Regions from separate parts of the Homo sapiens genome. Here region 1 is linked to region 2. The links come from fine-mapping of genetic effects on gene expression. A gene starts in region 2. The other region holds a variant in brackets. All regions are shown on one strand. Distances are from middle to middle. Region 1 overlaps DPH5-DT (DPH5 divergent transcript). Region 2 holds the start of DPH5-DT (DPH5 divergent transcript).

Region 1 (9,175 bases), 48 kb after region 2:
TTCAGAGGAAAATATTTAGAAATATTTCTTGCTTTGGGATTGTTATAAGTTTTCAAGTCTGTTTAAAAATATAACACTCAGTTGTTAAGTCACTTGAAAGCCTATTGGTACATCGCTTTGCCGAAAGCTGCCATCAGTCCATCTGTCCACAAGTGTGTTTTCTGCTTTAGACTTTCATACAAGACAGAGTTGCCAATAGTCTTCATGTTGTCTTCCGTTGTTTTCCTCATTTGACCCCCACCTCCTTTCTCTTTCTTCTCTGGTCTTTGAACTTCCTCCACTTTGGGCAGCTGCTTTCATTTGCAGCTCTGCTTTGAGCAAGGAAAAAATTCTGCCAATGAAAACAGGAAAAATAAGAAAACAAGAAGGGTTGCAAGTGTTTTGCATGTGTTGCAGCTCTCCGGCTGTCCACTTTGGGGTCTTCTCACCATTGGGTAGTATACTGAGAAGGAATCTGTTGTTGGAAACTGACCCTAGGTGACCAGAGCTTATCTAAGGGACACTTTTTTTGTCATCTTAGAATCAATAAATTTATAAATCATTTGTGTTAAAAGAACTGTGAAAGTGATATTTTATGTTTACTCACCCACTCCATATTCTGAGGTATATATTTATCATTTGGTCTGGTCAGATCTATGATATTGTCAAGTTACAGTTATATATATATATATATATGACTATATGATGTATATATAATATTTTAGAGACAGGGTCTCACTCTGATGCCCAGGCTGGCCTTGAACTCCTGGGCTCAAACGATCCTCCAGCCTCAGCCTCCCAAGTAGCTGGGACTACAGGCGCTTGCCACTGTGCCCGGTTATAATATTTTTGATTAAGACATTTGAGAGGGAGAGAATATGGCCTTTTTTTTTTTTTAACTCTCCTTCATTCCCTACAATACACACAAAAACCCCCACAGGGCAGGAACTTCTCTAACTTTCTCAGAGTAGTATATGATAGATATGCATGTACAATACATGAGAGTACTTCATAAATATTAGTTCATGGAGATAATGAAGAAAACATCTTTTCTAAGTCAAAAAATAGGAAGCAAATTCTTAATAGTTGCTGTTATTATGCCAATATGCTTGAGTTTGAAGTTTAGTGAGATCTTTTTTGAGTGGCTAAAAAAGGGAAGAGATGTAAGTCTTGTCTTCGTTGATAAAACATCAGGAGGATAGATTGATGGTGGTATCTAAATAATATACTCAAAATTAGAGTGTAGTTTCTGCCTTGGCACATCTGTCTTGTTTCCACTTCTTTGCTTCCTCCTTTTTCCACAGTATCCACTGCAGCACCACAGGATAGCTCCCCAGATAAGGCAGCAATCTAATGGGGCAGCTGTAGATCTCTGTGTTAGAATTAAGAAAGGAGTATTTGTCATTACTTATGTAACCCACTCTGCATCCACACTGACATATATAGCTGAATGAAGAAATCGCTCAAGCAAAATGTTGCCTCCCTTTGACCTTGTCTGAGTGCCATTCATTGTTGTTATCAGAGCTGAACAGTAAATGGCAGGAACCACATAAGAGTTGTAAACAAGTACACATGAGAAAAAGAAGTAACTGTATTTGCTGAGTCAAGATCCATGTAAAGGAGAGGATCACATTTCCCTTTCTTGGAAACACTTGAAAATATTTACAGTCTCAAGTTCAATTTAAAATATTCTTATTAAGTGTCTACTCTGTGTTAGACTCTTCACTAGTAACTGTGAATACAGAGATAATGAAGTATCTTGCTCATGGAAGAACTCACAGACTAGACTTATGATAACCTCTCTTCTCCTTAGAATTTGGAGGACTTTAGATGGTTTCCCCTAGATTTTTGTTTTGTTGCACAGTGTTACTCTTATTCTCTTAATCTCTAATGAAAAGCCTATTTGGTGGTATAGTACGAGTCCTAATGATGAATGAGTCCTAATGATAAATAAGACATCATTAGGACTTCTACTTTTTCAGTCTGTTTTACGAGTCCCACTCCACTAGACTGGGACCTTCTGGAGGGCAGGTTCCAGAAGGTCCCAGTCTAGTGGAGGAGTGAGACTTGTAAAATGGAAGTTATAGTACAATTTTTATAGAAATGATCAAATCATATTCTTTCTGAAACACTTAACTTCTGAGATTGATAGATCTTACCATTTAAATGAGTATACACATAAGGTGTTGTAGCATTGTATCTGGCAGACTGAGAGGACATAAAAGATGTTAACTACCTGCTTTACCATTATTACCTTTACCTTTCCTGTTTCACTGTTCTTATGCCAGATATTGAATACAAATCTAGCCCTTCCATATTTGACCTCTTTAAATGTCTCATTAACAAATGTCAGTCTACTTTCTAGGTGACATGAGACTCCTTATGTATCAGCATATCATTATCACTTCTGTTCTTCCACAGTTCCTGAATATATCACATGTGGTGATAAACATGAAGATGTATGAAAAATTGTGTTCGTTGAGAGAAAATGGAAGGCTTTTCATTCTACTTCCACATTTTCATTCCAGCAGCTTTTCTGTTTTGGAAGATGAGTACTGAATCTTGCAATGAAATTTTTTTAACTTAAACAAGGTATATTTTAGCGTGTTCCGCTATGGATGACTGTCTGATGCCGTCATGAATATTCAATTAACTTTTATTTTATTTTTATTTTATTTTATTTATTTATTTATTTTTGAGATGGAGTCCCACTCTGTCGCCCAGGCTGGAGTGCAGTGGCATGATCTCGGCTCACTGCAACCTCTGCCTCCTGTGTTCAAGTGATTCTCATGCCTCAGCATCCTGAGTAGGTGGGACTACAGGCATGTACCACCATGCCTAGCTAATTTTTGTATTTTTAATAGAGATGGGGTTTTACCATGTTGGCCAGTCTGGTCTCAAACTGCTAACCTCAAGTGATCCACCTGCCTTGGCCTACCAAAGTGCTGGGATTACGGGCGTAAGCCACTGTGCCCAGCCAAATATTCAATTAACTCTTAGATCAGCGTTTCTGAACCTCAGCTCTGCTGACATTTCCAGCCAGATAATTCTTTGTTGTGCGGGCTGTCCTGTGTGCTGTAGGATGTTTGGCAGTATCCCTGGCCTCTACCTACTAGATGACAGCATCCCTGCACATCTCTGACATCCAAAAATGACTCTAGACATTGCCAAATATCCCTGGGGGGTAAAATCATCCCCAGTTGGGAACCACTGCTTTTGATCATCTGGCCATTGATTTTTGGCCAATAGGATGGAGCTATGTGACTACAAGGGTGTGTGGCCTTTCTTCTGGTAGGTGTAGGACTTCAGTCTGCCATGCTCCTTCATATACTCAGTGCCTAATTTGTGCAAGGTAGCAGCAAACCATGAGGAGAAAGGTGGTCCATGTCTTGAAGAAACTCATAGTCTAACAATTTGTAAACTAAGTTGATTTTTCAGGTTTTGGAAATATGCTAGGTGATTCTTGATAATTCTTTGAAGTGGTACCTTGAGCTTCTTAGATAGCTGTGATAAATTTCCAAAGTTGGATATTATTATGTGTTATCAAAATACTTTCAAAGCAGTGGAAAACCCCTATACTTTTCTTGAAATTTTTCATTGAATAGTTGACTCTTGTGTAAGGAATAGATTGAAATTTGCAGCTTTGTTTTACTGGGATATTTGCTTGTTGTTTTAATGTTTAAGCCTTATCCCTCCAAATCTTTTATAAATCAACACTTGTATTGTAGATTTGGAGGATAATAACAGCACCTGTCCTGATACATAGAGTTCTTATTGTTTAGACAGCTGTCTACACTGAACATCAGCTGTCTGTACTCTGATTTCAGGGGTGTGTATGTGATCTAGGTTTGGACAATAAAAATATTGAACCCTCCTTCCCTGGACCTACAATTGTTTAAGGGAAGGAGACATGCAAAAGTTGGTATAAATTTCAATTCTAAAAGAATAATTGTACAATAAAAAATCTTACAATCGTGTAACTGAAGCTAACGTAAGTGTTCAGCTTACTATCAAGTACATAAAAACTTTAAAAATCCTTTAAAAATAACAAAAAATTCCAAATACTGTAATTAAGCATTTGATTCATTTAAAATCAAGTATGGAGCAACATACAATATAGCATTTAATATCACATTTGAACTGGTAAATCACTAGGACAACTTAGTTAAATAGTAATAAAAGAATTAATCCCCAGGATTATAGCATTTCTGTGGCATTTATCTAGTCCTTTGTACATAACAAAGTGATTCAGCTCTTCATTCATAAAACTGTGTTAGGAATCTGAGTTGTATGGTTTTCTGTGTGACAATTTAGACATTTTAGTCTTTGCATTCCAAAAACACTAGGAAAGTTGTTATTTGTTTGAAACAGATTCCAATGATCTGTTCTAATTTATTCTGATGAAAAGGGTAAAGGGAAATTTCTCTGACTTCTAAACTAACTTGAGAGATTTTCCTATTGCCTCAGTCTGTCCTCCCACCCCTAAGGTACATAGAAAGACAGATATGTGTGTACACACTATAACATTGTTTAAATGATACTCATATTATTGTTCTGAAATAGCCATACTTTAAATGATTTCAGATAATTGGCTTCAGTTTTGCTAATATAATTTATGTAAGTCATATGGCTAGGTCAAATTTAATAGAAAATTTGGGAAGAAAGATATTTAAAAATATATTTTATGATGAAAACTATCTTGATAAATTTCCTTGTTTATTTTATATGATAAAAATCATTGGTTGCTCCCTAATAAAATATCATTT[C/A]ACTTACATTACAGTGCTGGGCATGTATTACAAGTTGCTCATTTTTAGAGCTAATTTATGTAGCATATTTGCATGTGTGTGTGTAAAAGATTGTGACAGAGATAAGAGAAATAAGTGAAACGTTCACTTATTCACAATATAAGTGAATATAATCTATTAATATTCAAATTAAAAACTAGATAGCAAGTCAGTAGTTCATTTAGTTGAGAAACTTAGGGGAGGATGGGCAACTAACAATAACGGTACTATTATTATCATTCCTTTTTTACAGACAAGGAAAATGAAGCGCAGAGACGTTAAATAACTCTCTCAAGGTCATGCAGCTGAGAAGAGATGAGACTTGAACTCCAGTGCCAGCCCTGTTAATCACTATTCTGTACTGTCTTTCAGGTTCTTATGCCTTTGTTTGAAAAACATGGTTCCCTGTGAAATTTTACATGTAGAAGAAAGCTTCACACTACGAGAGCTCTCAGGATATAATTATTTCAGACAGATACTGGGAACATAAGATGGCTTATCAATCTAAGATGGCCTTCCTGTCCTTCGGATTGAACTGAAACCATCCCTGATTCCAGGGATAGGTAGATGATCCAGGTTTGGACAATCAAAATATTGAACCACCCTGGACCTACAAGTGTTTCTGGGATGGGAACATGCAAACGTTGGTCCAAATTGTTGTTCTAGGCAGCCCAGTACATTTCTCCAATGCCTGGTAAGCTCTAAATATCTCTAAATGTTTGTTGCAGAATGAATGAGAATAAAAGTATTCTCTTAGAACATATCCCTGACATTAGGTGTGGGATAAAAGTGGAAAATGCAGTTTGCCTCATAAAAATAGCTTTCAGAAATGACTTTTCTACAACAGCCATTCACCAGTATTCTAAAGGGCACCTGTCAAGGAGTCACTGCATTTTCAAAAGTACATTTATTTTCACATCACTGGCCAAAGTTGATCTATTATCATCACATTAGGCCCCTAGTATAGAGATGGCCCCTAAATTAGAAGCAGATTTGAATTGTTGAGACCTAAAAGCTTAGTTCCCTTAGAAGACTTTTTACCTGAGGGCAGGAGGTATAGTGAGGATCACCTGCTTTGAGTCATACTGGCCTGAGGTTGAATCATAACTTTGAAGTCAACTGAGGAATTGCATACTATGCATAGCATGACCAGCGGCATACTATGCAATTCCTCAGTTGACCGAGTAATTATACCCACCCATAGGATTGTTTTGTGAGTTAAAGGAAAGCTATATATACTTACATAAAATAAGCTGTATTATTTTACTTTCTTTTACAACTCTCAGTTGCAGGGATAAAAGGGAAGGAAAGAAGGGAGGGATGGAAGGAAAGAATAATGGAAGGAGGAAAGGAATTATAAAAGAAAATTGGCTAAAAAAATTAACTCATTACTAAAATATTAAGGGTTCAAACAGTATTCTCAGGACTTGGTATCTGCATTTCTACAGCCTATTTTTCTTAATACTTGCTTTAACTGTCAAAGGAGTTATTTCCTAATGTCATCCTTTAGCAACTCTAAACTTACATCTTGCCATTTTCTAATATAACATAAAAAAGAGCAACTCTCCCTGAAATACCTATAGAAGTCTTGGCCTCACTTTGATGAGACAAACTTGCATGTTTCTGTTCCTAAAACAACTGTAGATCCAGGGGGGTTCAATATTTTGATTATCCAAACCTAGATCACATGCCTGTCCCTGAAATCGGATAGTTTCAGCTCAATCCAAAGCAGGGGGACCGAAGGCACAGGAAGCACGGTTGTCCAAAGAAAATTGTTGATAGTGTTACCAAAAGAAAGGGGAGTGAATGTTAGATGGTAAAATCAGAAAAAAATGTCCACTACACTGTCACTTAACTAAATAGCAGTTATTATTGTGTTTTGTGCCACTTACAGATTCCTATTAAACCTACTACTACATTTTAAAAAATCGCTCTATTTAACAACTTTATTCAGAAAATATATTTAGATTTCCAATTTGGGATATTGCGATACATCTTCTACCTTTGCTTCAAGATGAATATAATTAGCAGGAATTCCTTAACAGGCCTATGTGGAACTCTCATTTAACTTTTATGAGCCTCAGTTTTCTTCCCATTGTCTAGAGAGTTACCCAAACAATTTTCTTTACTTTTGGCCAAGGTATCTCTGCTCCCTGCAGAATATAACAGATTGTTGTCTTATAACTTTTCTCCTTTTCTCTTGTTCCAGAAGCAACAGTTACTTCTTTTAGGCTATTTTCTGTTTTTGTTTGGTTTTGTTTTGTTTTCTTTTCCCTCAAACTGCTAATAACTATATACATACCACTACTTCTCGCTTCTCTTTTTTTACTTTGGCTCTAGATGGAATGATAGGGTATGCATAAATGTTCATGTGGGCTCTGGAGTATACCAGGAACTGAAGTAAGGTACATGGACGTCTTGAATATTGTAACTGAGATGGGCAAGCCTACACCTTTGCAAATAAAGGAGGATTGGGAAAGATTAAGGTGAGCTTTCTCGCAAACAGATGGGTCATGGGAATAAGGAATTCTGAATGCATGAACAGTGATGCTGAAAAGCAGGGGGTCTTCAAACTATACTCAAGGGCCAAATCATTGCCTCTTTTTATAAGTGAAGTTTTATTAGACTACTGCTCCACCCATTCATTTAAATGTGGTCTATGGCTGCTTTAGGACTTAAAATGCCAGAATACTTGTGACAGAAACCTTCTGGCCCTCAAAGCCTAGAATATACACTATCTGGCTCTTTAAAGAAGTTTGCCAACACCTGCTCCATTGTAAGGAGGATATTAGTCGGGTTCTAACAGAATTGCTTGTTGAACTAGGGTTTAAAACACATGGTAGAGACTCCACTGCCATAACCAGAGAGAAGACTGCCAAGAATTAGGCTAACTTGTTCTCAGGCAAAAAGGCTACGTAAAAGGCAGAATCTCAGTTCTGCAGGGCCAGTGCAGGAGGTGAGGAGGCAGGGGTTACACTGGTGTCCGTGGGTCATTGTTCATGCAATGGATACTCGGTCTGGTTGAGGGATACATGCAAGGCTAGAATTTGTGCTGAGTCACCAGATTTAAGATCTGGGAAAAAATAATGTACATTTCTTGACTTCAAAGACGTGGGGGCCATTAATCCAGATTTTACCCTTGTTGAACTAACTCAGGAATGGAAAACACTCTTGGTGAGGAAATGGGACACTGAATAGGGATACTTCCTACCAGCCCAAGACTAGGGTTAGGGAAGGACTCACTTATTGGTAAGAAAGGATTTTTGCCTCTACAGACCTTTACTTAGACCTGTACTTAAATGAGGTAAGAAGTGAGAAAGCAATATTTCTCAAGTGCCTACAAACCTGAGGAGTCTTTTTCCATTTGTATGTTACTCAAGATCTCAAAATGCCACAGCTCTTTAAAAGGGCTTCTTCTCTCCTTTGTATTGGTGGCTTGCAACATGCTATTTGAATCTTTCAGCAGGCTGACCTGTTTGGCTAATGCTATAACCCAAATTAATTGTTCTTTCCTCTATGTTTTTATTTATTTATTTATTTATTTATTTATTTATTTATTTATTTTTTTGAGACAGAGTCTCGCTCTGTTGCCCAGGCTGGAGTGCAGTGGCACCATCTCGGCTCACTGCAAGCTCCGCCTCCCGGGTTCACGCCATTCTCCTGCCTCAGCCTCCCGAGTAGCTGGGACTACAGGCGCCCGCCACCACGCCTGGCTAATTTTTTGTATTTTTAGTAGAGACGGGGTTTCACCGTGTTAGCCAGGATGGTCTCAATCTCCTAACCTCGTGATCCGCCCGCTTCGGCCTCCCAAAGTGTTTTTATTTGATCTTATCACAGTAGTCAGCATATTTTGCCTTGTATTATACTTATATGTGTACATGTAGTCTTCCCCCAGACTAGCCATTACTTGAGAGCAAAATTTTAGCCTTATCCGTCTAAATATCCCCCAAGTGCTTATCTAGTGAATGCCTAATTGTAATGCCTATTGACTTAAATGGAATTTAATTAAATGGGGTTTGTTATATTCTGCTAAGACTGTAGTAGATGTAGACACAAGTCTGATTCTTTTCTTATAACTACCATTTTCCCCTGTTATGGATATATCAAATTACTTACCACCCTTAACATCTCCTCCAGATTAATTTGTCTTGTGTAAGCCCCTAGTTGACCAAAGCTGATGGCTGATTAAATTCCCCCAAGGGAACTCAGCCACACAGCCACATAGGTTTTTTTTCTTTTTTGGTTGCAAAAAGCAGAAAGGTGCGTATGCAACAGAGACCATCTTAAACACGAGAATTATTAGAGTAGCTCACAGAAAGGTATCACTGAACAAGCAAGCTTCAGGAGGTTAGAAACCAGGACAATTCTGAGGACTCGAGCATTGAGAACTCATGAACTCTTTGACCCAGAGC
Region 2 (9,175 bases):
AGGATGAATGCGGAATATGTACACATGAGCCCTACTTCAGAAACATGATGTAATACAGAATAAATATATTAAACAATAAGTTTAAACAAACATGGTGGTTTAGCTTTTATTAAATTTTCAATGGTTAAACATATGGCAACTCAGCTAGAAAAAAAAGGCAGCACCAATGAGAAACAATAGAAAATTAGCTGTTTACAGAACCAGTGAACATTCCTACATAAATGCAGAAGATACTAATTTAAAACTATATTCCTTAGTTTCTGCTAAAAAGGCAGAGTTGCAGGAGCAGTAACTGAATTCTAAATATGTAGGAAGTTTGCAAACAAACTGCTTTGTGATTTAATTCCCTGCAGCTCAACTCTAGAGAACAAATCCAGTAGAGAGTGAGCTAGTAAGCTAGTAGTCATCTGATAGTGGTTACGGGCTATTATGCAAGATCATGAATCCTTTTCTTTTTTTTCATCTCGTCAGCCAGTACAGAATGAAGGATCATGAATCTTAAAACTGATTTCCTGAGAAGTAATAAGTAATTCAAATGGAGTAAAACTGGATGCATAGATAAATAATACGGTTTCTTACATACTGAGAACTTTGAGTGAGTTATTAAAATTTATAAGGATTGCTGTAGTGCAACGGTATCTGGTACTCAATAATATCTGTCAAACAAATGAGTACATGAACAAATTATTAAGCAGGGCAGGATCCAGCATTGACCATTTTGCTTGAATCCTACCTTCTCTGTAGGTGTTCTGTGAAGTTAAACTTTGTGTAGCTATTATCTATCCTTAAGAATACAGAGACACAGTACAGTGTAGAGGTCAAGAGTGGTAGACCTCGGCCGGGCGCAGTGGCTCTCACCTGTAATCACAGCACTTTGGAGGCCGAGGCAGGTGGATCACCTGAGGTCAGGAGTTCGAGACCAGCCTGGCCAACATGGTGAAATCTCATCCTACTAAAAATACAAAAATTAGCCGGGCGCAATGGCACACGCCTGTAATCCCAGCTACTCAGAAGGCTGTGACAGAAGAATTGCTTGAACCCGAGAGGCAGAGGTTGCAGGGGGCCGAGATCGCACCACTGCATTCCAGCCTAGGCAACATAGCAAGACTCCGTCTCAAAATAAAAAAACATAATAAATAATAATAATAATAAAAAGAGTGGCAGACTTCAACTCAGGACTGCTTTGGTTCATCTCCTGGCTCTATCATTCACTATCTGCATGAACTTAGGCAAGTTTGTTAACTTCTCTATCCCTGCAAAATGAACAGTAATTAGAATAATAATCCTAATCTACATGTAAAGCATTTAAAACAGTGCACAGTAACTGTTCTGTAACTGTTCTATAAATGTCAGTACTTATTACTGTGAAGAAACAGATATTCCAGCACCTTAACAAAGTACACATAATTTACTGTAGGTAAGGCTGGGTCCAGCTTCAGGTCTTGACTCTGTAAGTAGTAACTCCAGAAGTTTTGTCTTTGGAAAAAAATACTTTACAAAATAACAGCAGCCAAAATTAACATTTAGCTAGCACTGAAAATTTACAAAGCACTTTCATATACATCATCTCAATAAAACACTACATAACCCTCCAACTGGTAATTGCCACTTGACAAATGAAGAAACTGAGGTTCAGAGAAGTTTGGAAATGTGAACATTGACAATTTCTATTTCTGAACAGTTTTGTGCCATATACCATAGTTAAGAACCTATGCTAAGAATTATGCTGAACACCTAAAGTAGATGTTTTTTACCCCATTTAAAAAAGACACTAAAGTTAAAGGACTTGTCCAAGGTCACATTAACATGTAACAAAGATAAAACTATAACCAAACTTTCCTCTATGCCATCCCCTGATATCTCATTCTATCAAACTGCTGTTTTGTTATTTGTCTGTCTTTTCTTGAAGGTGTTAAGTTCCTTTTACTTTTCCTTAATCACTGATTAGAGACGCACATTTCCATCATTTCGAGCTTAGATATTTTGGTTCTATCCTAAGAGTGAAAAAATGAGAAAAAAAAATGTTTTTTAAATCAAAGCTGGCCTTAGGCTGGGTGTGGTTGCTTGTGCCTATACAATCCCAGCACTTTAGGAGGCCGAGGTGGGCAGATCACTAGAGTCCAGGAACTTGTGACCAGCCTGGGCAATGTGGCAAAACCCTGTCTCTACAAAAAATACAAAAAATTAGCTGGGCATGATGGCACCCACCTGTAGTCTCAGCTACTCGAGAGGTTGAGGTGGGAGGATACTTGAGCCCAGGAGGCTGAGGCTGCAGTGAGCCATGATCATACCATTGCACCCCAGCCTGGGCAACAGAGCAAGACTTATTTTCTCTCTCTCTCCACATATATGTATATATCAAAGTTGGTCTTTACACACAACTTTTATTTAAATGCATGGCCAATTCAAGTAGCAGTTCTTAATTCCTTCTATAAGATTTTAAAGTAATCTGAGGCCTAAAAATTTTAAGTCTATTTTTTGTTTGGAAGACATGACAATAAATCTGCTCCCTCCTCCCATAACATATGTATTAATCCTTTGATTTACATTCTACTTAGAGTTTGACAATGAACCTGAAGTTGACCCTTCCCCCAAATTTACTGGGCCCTTATGAGGGCCAACTATAAATGTATAATATACTAACAAATACTTTGGTTACTTAGTGTATACTCATGTAAGTGTATACTCATACATTTTTATATATTAAGTCCAGGCTCACTCAATATATACAAGTGTATCAGTATAAGCCTTATTGGGAGATAGTCTATTTAAGATAAGATCTCTCTGGATAGGATACAAAAAGGCAATCGCCATTCCCTATGGACACACTTCAAAGGGGGAAGCTTTCAGCTTGGTTTTTGAATATATATAACCAACTCATTAAGGCTGTGTCAGCTCCTCATTAGCACTCAACTCAGAAAGGGTTTCTTGACTACCTCATGAAATAAGGGGTTTTGATAACTATCCCCCAGGAGTATAAAATAGCTTTCCTATTTACTGGAGAAAGCCACAAAATTAGACTTGTAAAATAGGACAAAGCACCCTTTCATTTTCCAAGTCACTTGGTTGGTGTAAAATTTCCATTCTTCTGCTCCTCAGATCATTAATGAACAAGGGATGCGTTTCAAAGGGTTTAAACAAGCAGACCTGAAAATTCTGTTCAGCTTAGTGTATGAAAATCAGATGTTAGATAGCTTTCTTCCCAGGAGGCTGGGGAACGCTCAGCACCTACCAAGGCTTCCTTCCCTACAGTTAGGACTGAGGTGTAGGCTTCCAGATACACTCGACTGCAGCGTCTAACAACTTCCAGGCCCTTGACTGTGATGTCCTTGGCATCTCCCAGGCCCAACCCGATGAGATAAAGCATTTCAAACTTGAGGAGAAGAGAGACTGCAAGACGAAGTGGACAGAAAAACCGTCAGTAACACCGAGGACATCTAAAATCTAGTGATGAACACGATGACAACCAAAGTAGCACAAGAGAAGAGGCAAGTCACAAGGAGGGGTTTGGGAACCTTATGTCACGCTTAAGAACTGGGATAAGAGGTTTTAAACAACCCTACCAGTTTTGCCTCTTGTTACACAAACCTAGGAGCAGCCAATTACCCGCTGAGAGAATCGTAGGTAGTTCTCTGGCCTTTACAAATTCTTAACTACCACCTTTCCGCAGAAGCAACTGCAAAAGCGCCGGCTCCGTGCAGAGAAAAGGCCCACGCCGCCGGCCTCACCTACGGTGCCGCAAAATGCTGGTGCCTTTACTGCACTTTACGACTAGCGGGAGGGGGCCGGGCTAGCGGGCTACTGGGCTGCGGAGACCAGAGCCCGGCTCCACTGAAGAAACCCGCCGGCTGCTGGGGCAGGGCGGCGAAAGGTCAGTCGGCCGAGAGGAGTCCGTGGAGCCACCGTTTCATAGCCTCAGGGAAAGGATCGGGCGTGCTCACGAGCCCTCTAACCCATGGCTTAAACACCCGCTTCCTAAGCCTGGGTAAGTGCAGTAGCTCTTCGCTCGAGAGGAGCCACGTGGAAGAGAGTCGGGAGGGGCCCTGCGCCCTACTCCTCCTCTCCAGAAACAGGGAGGGCTGGGAAGGATTTTCCTGATTTGTCCCCGGATTTGGCCGAGTGCACAGATTTTAATTCCAGTCTTCTCATCCTCCTGTAGTTCAACTAGGTGTCTTCCTGGTGAAGCGTGAGATTGGCAAACCCAGCAGTGAGTGTGCTTCTGATTTCCCAACAAGGCAATGACTCCTTGGGTTTGTCCCCAAGACCTTATGCCTGGAGTGCCCCAAGGATGTTTCAGTCACCCTCAGTGTCAGGAATCCCAGACCTTCCTGTACCTAAAGAAGTGACCTTTAATAGTGCTCAGGGATTTCAGACCTCTCAAGTGTTTCTGCCGGGGGAATTCTTATAAAGCTGTTGGTTACATGTAATTAGAAATAGGGAAGATTTGTTTTGACTGAAAATGCTCTTCCCAAGGTGACCTCATCCAAGTTAAAAAAGACAGCTGTCATTGCTTTTCTTAGCAGGCAGTGTTGGTTACTCAGAATTTTCCTGTTGCCTCCCCGACAATGCCCAACTCCGCTTCCTTGAACCTTGGCTTTTTTTCATTCCCAGGTTCCATCCACCTTTTTGCACTTCCTATCTATAAACTCTTCGTGGCTGTGTTTTATCCCCTCTCATTACGTTGATCTATTCCTCACACCACATACACACCCCAAAAAACTCAAAATGGATCGTAGATGTAAATGGAAAACCTAAACCTATACCAGAAGAAAACATAGGAGGAAATATTCGTGACCTTATTTAGGCAAATATTTCTTAAACCAAAAGCGTGATGAAAAAAATTGATAAATTGGACTTCAACAAAGTAAAAATTTATGCTCTTCAAAAGACTTGAAGCCACATACTGAAAATATTTACAAAGCATGTATCTGATGAAGGACTTGTATGGAGAATATATAAGGAGCACTCAGAAAGCAATAATAAAACAGTTCGTTGTTTAAAAATGGGCAAAAGATTTGAATAGACACCAAAGAAGATACACAAATAGCAAATAATTATTTTAAAAGATCTTAAACAAACAAAAAAAGATCCTAAACATCATTAGACATTAGGAAAATAAACATTTAAATCACAATGAGCTACCACAACCCACCTATTAGAATGGCTTAAGTAAAACAAACAAAACCTCACAAAAACTGGCTGTTCACTCAGAATTCCTAGTATCGCTAATATTTTGTAGATTCAAATTTCAGCCTCCTATCCAGACTTCCTCCCTCTTGGCTTCATGTTAACGTTCTGCTGGAAATCTTCACCTAGATAACCCGGAAGCATATTCAACACATCCAAGGTTGAATCCATCACCTTCCCTTTCCATTTTGCTTTTCTTTCCATATTATCTACTTGGATGGGTCGGGGGTGGGGGTGGGTGAGGAGAGTATTGTCATCAACAGATTAACCCCAGCCAGACACTTGGGAGTCACCCCCACATCGTCTGTCATGTCTGCCTGTATATCTCAATAGAAACCATACCGTCTATCACCATCTTGATTCTCAGGTCCTCATTTTGTCACTCTTGTAGCTGATAATAATGTCTCCTTCACTCAAGGGGGTCAGAGAGTTATAGTTAACAATCTGAAAATATTACACCCCTTCTAGATCCTTCTGAGGCCAAGAGAAAGTCCAGGTTTGTTAACATACCCCACAAGATCATTCGTGGTGTGGCCACTGCCTACCTTTTTAGCATCATCTCTCTCCACTCCATACCATGAGCTTTCTCGCTTTCTCTCCAGCAATACTGAATTGCTTGTAGTTCTCTGCCCACAACATGCTGCTTTGTTCCTCTACGCTGCTGCCTCATCATAGAATATTGTCTCCCATTCTCTCCTGCCTAGATCACTAATACCCATTCTTTAAGACCAAGTTCAGGAAGCCTTCCCAGAGACCCTCACCCCCCTAAGCTAATTTAGGTTTCTCCTCTTCATTACAGTATTACTCTACATATACTTACTAACCAATTTATGAGATTTTATATTTGTTCATTTGTATTTCTTCTTTACCAAACTATTGATTTAGTTAATTCAGGGACTGCATCTTATTTGTATGCTCATCTTAGGTTTAGCACTATCCCTTGCACATAATAGGTATTAAATAAATGTTTGTTGAATAAATCATTATTATCCACTAGTAGCTGAGCTACGTATTTTTCCATCTTTATTAATACAGAGGGTGGTATGTTTTAAAAAACTACCAAAAAAATCATTAATGGAATATCAAATATAAATATGCCTGTCTCATGCCACTTTAGAAGGTCATTTGTATTGAAAGGCTTGCAACACACAAAACATATAGTTCATATGCATGCTATTGAGTAGGTAAACACATTTTCCAATGTGTTGATCATTTATGTTTTTTGTTTTCAGATTTAAAAAAATAATAATTTCAGGTAGATTCACAGTGCAAGGACACTGCCAAAAAGGATGATTAAGTAATCTGAAGAAGGTGTGGTTTATCTCCTTTCAGGAAATATATCTATATTGAAAATAAAGTTATTCTGGGTAATCAAGGAAGTGAAACATTGCCTGAAATAACAGTAATAATTTGTTTTTAAGCTTCAAAATGTAGCCAGAGGAACTTAGTTTTACCACGGAGAATTCTTAACAAACAAACCTTTCACCTGCCGTTATTTCTCAATAAGAGTGTAAATTTTTTGTACTTTTCTGGAGGTAGACAGATAAAGGGATTATGGTAATCTTTTTTGTTTTTCCTCCTCAGCTCAACAAACATAAGCTGCAAAAATCTTGCCTATTGGATTTTGCAGAATTCTGTGGGATTTGGACATTTTTCCCTTGCCATTTAAAACAGGTTTCAAATGTGATTACATTTTCCCCAACAATTTATTGTGAAAAATTTCAAACATATAGAAAAGTTGAAACAGTGTCACAGTCAACACCCATATAGCCACCTCCAAGGTTCTAAAGTTTTAACATTTTGCTGTTTTTGCTTTATCACTTATTTATCCTTTTACCCAGATGTCAACCCATCTTATTTGTTGATGCATTTCCAGGGAAGTTGCAGCCATCAATACACATATTACATTTTGCTTGAAACATAAACTCCTCACCTAGGTAATAGATTAACAAAACATACCTAGGCATATAGCTGATTAAATGATATCATTGCTTCACCTAATTTAGGCTGGATTTTGAAAATTTTGCTGTAAAACGATTTCAAATTAGTTTTTAACAAATATTATAGTTTTATAATGATAATGAAAGCAGTTAGAGGACAAATTCTTTTATGTCAGCAAATTTGTAGTCTCATGTCTAGCAGAAGAGAGAGTGATGGTTAAAGAGAAAGGTGATTATAGGACAAAAGAAAAAAAGAAAGATTTTTAGCCTTTTTTGGCTTCAAGAATAACATGGATAGATTAGACCTGAAGAGTTTTCTACTTTGTATTCTTGCTTTCAGGTCAGATGATGCCAAGTCATCCCTGAGGGTGAACATTTATGCTTTTATGAAGGATCTTTAAGATGTTTTTATAACCTTTGCCAGTAACTCATTTTTACTGGCAAATTCTTCCTTATATTTGAGACCTACAGTCAGTAGTCATAAAATGTGAGAGAGATGCAGATAGTCATAAGAAATTAATACTGATGGCTTTTCCATTTCATTGTCATAGACACATCATATGCTACTTTTATTCTGAAGTAATAACATAGTTGAGTCACTGCATTACCTTACGGACAAATTATAATTACCTTACATTTAAGAGAAGTCATCCTTCAATTGTCCTGTTTAAGCAGTTTGTGTATTGAAAAGAAGACATCAGGGTGACTGACTAAACTCCATCTGACCTTACTGTGAATGAAGAATATTATTTTACTATGAAGCTGGCCTTTTAACCTACATGTTCCCAGAAATTGCCTTTGTTAGAGGAAATCTTGGTTAATATTTGTAGAGCTCAGACTCTTAATTGATTGAAGTCATTATTTTCTAACAATTCACAAATAAGTGATAATTAAAGATAACATTGCTTTAGGATAAGGACCTGTATTTACTAAGGTTAAAAGATTTGAAGTTACTTTATTGTACACTTGTTTACTTAGAGAAAAAGTCACTTTTTATAAACCCAGTGATTTTAAGTACTCATCCATACATTATATGTTAATCATATGATGTAAAAATGCATAAAAAACAAATCTAGAGCTATTTTCTGTGTAAAGTGTGGAAATTTTTATTGTCATTCATCCTAGCTTAATAGATTGAATCAGTAACAATATGGACTGTCGTAAAGAAGTCACCTAGAGCCCTGCGTTTTTGTGTAAAGGAGCTCCCAGAATGTTCCCTTAAGTGCCTGTGTGTATGTGCATGTATGTGTAAACTTTCTGTTTGTTTCTAACCCATTTTCGTATATGGCAGGTCCTTCCTCCAAAGTCTATTGCTAAAAAGGTAGAATCAGGGATACATAATTCACTCTTTTTGCATTTAAAAAAACTACAGGCCAGGCACGGTGGCTTACGCCTGTAATCCCAGCACTTTGGGAGGCTGAGGCGGGTGGATCACGAGGTCAGGAGATCCAGACCATCCTGGCTAACACGGTGAAACCCCGTCTCTACTAAAAATACAAAAAAATTAGCCGGGCGTGGTGGCGGGCACCTGTAGTCCCAGCTACTTGGGAGGCTGAGGCAGGAGAATGGCCTGAACCTGGGAGGCGGAGCTTGCAGTGAGCCAAGATCGTGCCACTGCACTCCAGCCTGGGCAACAAAGCGAGACTCCGTCTCAAATAAAAAACAAAAACAAAAACAAAAACTTACAGTGTCCCTTTAAGGTTTTTTAGGGAAACATAGCTAAACTAGCCAAGATTTGGTGGGAGAAGGGGAGTGGTTTCCCTTTCATTCAAAAGCCAAAATTCATAAAAGCGAACTACCAGGCTGTATATTAGCCACACACACATACCCCCACTATCTACACCACTCCCCTAGTTCTCCAGCCTCACCTCCTCGTCTCCGTACCCCTGGCCCCTACAGATAGCTGTGTGGCTCTGGCTCCACTTCCTTGAAGTCATTGTTCAGAATTCACTTCCTCAGTGAGGGCTATTTTATGTAAACTACAACCAACATTTCTAATCACTTTATCCGCTTATTTGCCCCTGTAGCATTGCTCACTTTGTAACACA

The links. PIP is the estimated chance that this variant, and not a neighbour inherited with it, causes the effect.
Region 1: its variant is fine-mapped to the expression of DPH5-DT in whole blood (INTERVAL, PIP above 0.99).

The regions. Positions count from the first base shown.
Region 1 is chr1:101,070,260-101,079,434 of GRCh38, forward strand. It overlaps DPH5-DT (DPH5 divergent transcript), which reads left to right. Exons shown (of 5, transcript NR_109849.1): 2 at 5,136-5,457; 3 at 7,104-7,249. Among named protein-coding and RNA genes, the nearest start is that of DPH5-DT, 49 kb to the left of the region's middle. The variant C/A (reference allele first, on the strand shown) is at 4,746.
Region 2 is chr1:101,022,077-101,031,251 of GRCh38, forward strand. DPH5-DT (DPH5 divergent transcript) reads left to right here and starts at 3,770. Exons shown (of 5, transcript NR_109849.1): 1 at 3,770-3,985. It overlaps DPH5 (diphthamide biosynthesis 5), which reads right to left and starts at 3,708. Exons shown (of 8, transcript NM_015958.3): 1 at 3,607-3,708; 2 at 3,233-3,390. The coding sequence starts at 3,367. RefSeq lists enhancers at 3,238-4,437, 3,530-3,639 and a silencer at 5,431-5,490.